2 separate regions of the Homo sapiens genome follow, and region 1 is linked to region 2. The links come from fine-mapping of genetic effects on gene expression. A gene starts in region 2. The other region holds a variant in brackets. All regions are shown on one strand. Distances are between the middles of the regions. Region 1 holds the start of LOC105376861 (a long non-coding RNA gene). Region 2 holds the start of FUCA1 (alpha-L-fucosidase 1).

Evidence for each region. PIP is the estimated chance that this variant, and not a neighbour inherited with it, causes the effect.
Region 1: its variant is the best candidate, but not a certain one, in a credible set for the expression of FUCA1 in whole blood (INTERVAL, PIP 0.70).

The regions. Positions count from the first base shown.
Region 1 is chr1:23,837,848-23,840,754 of GRCh38, reverse strand. It overlaps LOC105376861 (a long non-coding RNA gene), which reads left to right and starts at 2,119. Exons shown (of 3, transcript XR_947068.2): 1 at 2,119-2,691. The variant G/C (reference allele first, on the strand shown) is at 1,569.
Region 2 is chr1:23,866,891-23,869,797 of GRCh38, reverse strand. It overlaps FUCA1 (alpha-L-fucosidase 1), which reads left to right and starts at 1,508. Exons shown (of 8, transcript NM_000147.5): 1 at 1,508-1,900. The coding sequence starts at 1,512. RefSeq lists a silencer at 1,877-2,096.

The sequences.
Region 1 (2,907 bases), 29 kb after region 2:
ATTTTAAGAAAGTGTAAGACAATGTTGAAGGTGAGGCCTGCAGCAGCAGATCATCTATATCAATTTTTGAGGAAAAAATTCACTTTGTGTCCCAACTGAAGAGAACTGGCGATTAACAGCCCAAACAACAGCCAACATCATAGACATCTAATTGGTTCGGCTTACACAATTCTGACTGAAAAAGTTCAGCAAACTTTCCACTGAATGGGTGCTAAAAGTATTGCACCCAGATAGGCCAGGTGCGGTGGCCCATGCCTGTAATCCCAGCACTTTGGGAGGCCAAGGTGGATGGATCACAAGGTCAGGGATTCGAGACCAGTCTGGCCATTATGGTGAAACCCTGTCTCTACTAAAAATACAAAAATTAGCCTAGTGGTGCGTGCCTGTAGTCCCAGCTACTCAGGAGGCTGAGGCAGAAGAATTGCTTGAACTCAGGAGGTGGAAGTTGCAGTGAGCCAAGATCGAGCCACTGCACTCTAGCCTGGGCAGCAAGAGCGAAACATCGTCTCAAAAAAAAATAATAATAATAAAATAATTTTTTAAACTCACCACCTCAGCTTTATAAAGCAGAACTTTTATTTATTTATTTATTTATTTATTTATTTATTTATTTTTATTTTTTTTGAGGTGGAGTCTTGCTCTTGTCGCCTAGGCTGGAGTGCGGTGGTACAATCTCGGCTCACTGCAACTCTGCTTCCCAGGTTCAAGAAATTCTGCCTCAGCCTGAGTGGCTGCGCCACCATAAGCGACTAATTTTTGTATTTTTAGTAGAGACGGGGTTTCACCATGTTGGTCAGTCTGGTCTCGAACTCCTGACCTACTGATCTGCCCGCCTTGGCCTCCCAATCACTTGAACCTGGGAGGAGGAGGTTTCAGTGAGCCGAGATTGTGCCACTGCACTCCAGCCTGGGCAACAGAGTGAGACTCTGTCTCAAAAACAAACAAACAGAAAGGCCAGGGAAAGCTTCACCAAAGAGTACTTCCCCACTTCAGGACAACGCTCCTGACTTCTTATTGTTTTGTAATCTTAAAAAAATCTTTAAAGGGGCCGGGCGCAGTGGCTCAAGCCTGTAATCCCAGCACTTTGGGAGGTCGAGGCGGGCGGATCACGAGGTCAGGAGATCGAGACCATCCTGGCGAACACAGTGAAACCCCGTCTCTACTAAAAATACAAAAATTAGCCCGGTGTGGTGGCAGGCACCTGTAATCTCAGCTACTCAGGAGGCTGAGGCACGAGAATTGCTTGAACCCGGGAAGCAGAGGTTGCAGTGAGCCGAGATTGCGCCACTGCACTCAAGCCTGGGCGACAAAGCGAGACTCCAAAAAAAAAAAAAAAAAAAAAAAGCTGGAGGCCGGTAGATCACGAGGTCAGGAGATCGAGACCATCCTGACTAACACGGTGAAACCCCGTCTCTACTAAAAATACAAAAAATTAGCTGGGCGTGATGGCGGGCGCCTGTAGTCCCAGCTACTCGGGAGGCTGAGGCAGGAGAATGGCGTGAACCCGGAAGGCGGAGCTTGCAGTGAACCGAGATTGTGCCACTGCACTCCAGCCTGGACGACAGAGA[G/C]AGACTCCGTCTCAAAAAAAAAAAAAAAAAAAAAAAATCTTTAAAAGGCACCCATTTTTCTTCAGTTAATAATGCAAAAAAGACTGCATTGACGTGGTTTAATTCCCAGGACCCTCTGCCCTTTAAAGGTAAACTAAATGCATATCATAGCTTTACAAAAATGTCTTGCCCTTGATAGAGCTTATACTGAGAAATGAGGTTTATATTTTTTATTTTAATATTTTGATTCCATTTTCCAATAAGTTTTTAAAGTCCCCTCATATACCTAGAGGCGAAATTACTGGGTCATATGGTAACTGTATGTTTAACCCCTTTTGTTGTGTGTGATAAAATATATGTAACATAAAACTTGTCACTTTAAACATTTTTAAGTGTACAATTCAGTGGCATTATTTTCACAATGTTGTGCAACTGAAACGGGTAAAGTTCCTTTTCCCCCTCTCAGGGCGTGCGAGGGGGGTGTGGCGTGCGACGGGGGTGTGGCGTGCGAGGGGGGTGTGGCGTGCGACGGGGGTGTGGCGTGCGAGGGGAGTGTGGCGTGCGAGGGCGGTGTGGCTCGCTTCTTCAGTGCCAGGCTGCTCAAACCTCTAGGGGGGCATACAGACAGGCAGAGGCTGTGGGCCTCCAACCCCACGGCAGCATGTAGGGGTGGATGCTTACAGCTCCTGGAGCCCCAGTGGGCGTGTGTTACAGGGTGCTCTTTTAGTTTTGCTGTCTATAGGCGACTTGTGTTAGTTAACCAGCTCGAGTGGGCTCTCAACCTTGTCATAGGACAGAGAGGGCTTTCTATATGCCGGGTTCTTGCCTTGGTGTACCAGAAGAATTGGATCACACCTGGGCTTAGAGAATGGGTGCAAGGTTTTATTGAGTAGAGGTAGCTCTTAGCAGATGTTGGAAGCCAGAAGAGAATGGAGTAGGAAGGTTTTCCCCTGGAGTGGGGCCACTCAGCAGCCCGGGACCCCCTTCCACAGTCCCAGCCAAACTCTGCGTCGTTCTGCTGGTCAGCGGCCTGCTGGCGTGCCAGTGCCTGCTGATGTGCTCCTCTGGACGTCCAGCCGCCTGTGTGTTCCTCCACTGATGTGCTCCTCTCCATGTCCGGCTACCTGTGTGTCTGCCTGCTAAGGTCTTGGGGGTTTTTATAGGCACAGGATGGGGGCGGGGCAGGCCGGGTGGTCTTGGGAAACGCAACATTGGGACAGGAAAACAAAAATGCCTGTCCTCACCTAGGTCTGTGGGGGTGGAGCTGCAGTCAAGGACCACGTTCTCACGTCCTCCTCTACCCAGCACTTCCTTCCCACCTTTCCATGTCATTTATAGGGACCATGCTCTTCTTCCCTTC
Region 2 (2,907 bases):
CAACTCTGATGTGCTGCCATTCTCTCACTGGCATGTGGGAACTGAGTGTGCTACGTGGAGTCATGAGACTTCTTCTTCCTTTTCTTTTTCTTTTTTTTTTTTTTTTTTTTTGAGACCGAGTCTCACTCTGTCGCCCAGGCTGGAGTGCAGTGGTGCGATCTCGGCTCACTGTAACCTCCACCTCCCGAGTTCAAGCAATTCTCCTGCCTCAGCCTCCTGAGTAGCTGGGATTACAGGCGCACCCCATGCCCGGCTAATTTTTGTATTTTTAGTAGAGATGGGGTTTCACCATGTTGGCCAGGCTGGTCTCAAACTCCCGACCTCAGGTGATCTGCCCACCTCGGCCTCCCAAAGTGCTGGGATTACAGGCGTGAGCCACCTTGTCTGTTCAGAGACTTCTGACTTCCGTATTTCCCTCGCTAATGGCCTCACCTCCCGTTTGAGTATGTGCAGCATGTGCAAATTGCAGAGGAACTGGGGAACTTCCCTGCCAGGCAATCCTGGGTCCTCTTGGCTCTCCACTTCCTCCTTCCTTCCTTCCTTCCTCCTTCCTTCCTTCCTTCCTTCCTTTCTTTCTTCCTTGGTCTGGCTCTGTCGCCCAGGGGCTGGAGTGCAGTGGCGGTATCTCGGTACAAACTAAGCTATTTGAAATGCCTCGGAATTCCCAAAGAAAGCTCAGTAAATACCAGACAGATGAAACGGTCCTGCCCGCTCTCCCTCTTTCAGTACCCAGTTTTCTCTTTCCTCTCCTTTCATAACGTTTCTTCCCATCATCCCTCTACCTCCTTATTTCTGTCAGGGCTGTTAGATACCCTTCCGGTCTGTTATCTCCTCCTCCAGCCTTGTGCTACAGGACAACTCAAAAGCCCCCTATGGCTCCCAAGTGATCACTAAATAAAACTCGTGATCTCACTTCAGCCTACCCCTGCAGGATTGCTGCGGCAAAATGGACTACTCCCAGAGGCGTGATCACGGTTCGGTTCACTGCAGCCCAGACTTCCCGGGCTCAAGCGATCCCGAACCTCCCACCTCAGCCTCTCGAGTAGCTGGGACTCCAGACGTGCACCACTACGCCAGGCTCATTTTGTTTATTTTTTATAGAGACAGGCTAGTCTCCAACTTGTGGGCTCAGAGCGATCCTCCCGCCTCGACTTCCGAAAGTGTTAGGATTACAGGCGTGAGCCACTGCGTCCGGCTCAATGGACTCCTTCTTAAATGTGAGTTCTCCGCACACACTGGGCCTTGCTCACCTCCACGATTTAACCTCGCAGTTAAGTCCCTTTTCAAGGTTTTTATTCGTCCTTCAGCGAAGCGCTGTCAACGCCTCCCTGCGTCTTTCCCTTCTTGAGCACCAGAGGGCGCTCCTCCGACCCGAGGAGGAAGCGACTCGGGCCAACCTGTCCAGGTTGTCCCACCCCTTTTTCCTTCCGGGCCAATCGTTAGTCAGAGTGGGCGGAGCCGCCCGCGGGCACCTGCGCGTTAAGAGTGGGCCGCGTCGCTGAGGGGTAGCGATGCGGGCTCCGGGGATGAGGTCGCGGCCGGCGGGTCCCGCGCTGTTGCTGCTGCTGCTCTTCCTCGGAGCGGCCGAGTCGGTGCGTCGGGCCCAGCCTCCGCGCCGCTACACCCCAGACTGGCCGAGCCTGGATTCTCGGCCGCTGCCGGCCTGGTTCGACGAAGCCAAGTTCGGGGTGTTCATCCACTGGGGCGTGTTCTCGGTGCCCGCCTGGGGCAGCGAGTGGTTCTGGTGGCACTGGCAGGGCGAGGGGCGGCCGCAGTACCAGCGCTTCATGCGCGACAACTACCCGCCCGGCTTCAGCTACGCCGACTTCGGACCGCAGTTCACTGCGCGCTTCTTCCACCCGGAGGAGTGGGCCGACCTCTTCCAGGCCGCGGGCGCCAAGTGAGTGTGGTCCCGGGGAGCGGCGCCCCTTCCCGGCTCGGGCGGCAAACAGGAGGTGGGGCTGGGCGGCCAGCTGGGGCGCGCAGCTGCCGGTCGCCCCCATGACCCCGGGGCCCGCGTGTGGCCTCCTGCGGCCACAGGAGTGAGCCTGGCACACCTGATGAGGAGGAGGAGGTGCGTTTGACTGGGGACTGATAAATGAAGGTTCAGGGAGATGGCAGGCTGGGAAGCCCTGGGTATCTGCACCTGTGCACCGAGAGGGCTGAGTTAGGCCATACCTGATGTCCCTTTCAGATTGACAGCACTATCAGGACTCCAGGGTTTCAAATCAGTGGTGTGGAGCCTGGTTCTAATTCAACTGTGAACCTGGACATGTCACTTCAGCCTCCCTGCAGCCTCTTCTATGGTTGTAGAAAGGGGTTATATAAGGATACAACCCTTTGAGCCCTAATGTCTCTAAGAGGGAAAGAGAGGGGAGTTCTGGTGTGCAGTGTATTTGGGCAACAGTACAGATAGTCATTCGTTTGCTCCTCTCAATCCCTTTTACGTAGGAAGTGTCCAGGAAGGGTCTGACTCTCTCTGAGAACTGTTGGAACTTGGGGGTGGCTGGTTCAGAGAACAGAGTAGAGAGCGCTGGGGTGGGGATAAGGGGAGACCACGACCCATGAAGTTGTCAAGGCAGGGGCTTGTCCTGAAGGAGTGAGCCTTGAGAGCCCTGTATTGACAGATGTTAAGTCAGGGAGTGGTTACTATCAGCTTCTAGAAAGATTCATTCGGCTGCTGGGAGAGAAGTGGGTTGGAGAAGAGTAAAAATGGAGGCGGGGAGGTTTCCCCAGCCCCTGGCTTAGAGCAGTCTTCCATCCTTACCTTGGTTCCTCAGCCATCTTCCGGGTTTTCGTTTCTCTTGAACTTTGAATTCACTTGTACTAAAGAGAAGTTACAACTGGCATTTAGTGTTTGCCATTAAATGTATGGGAGTATAAGACTTGATTAAGCAGAGGAAGTGT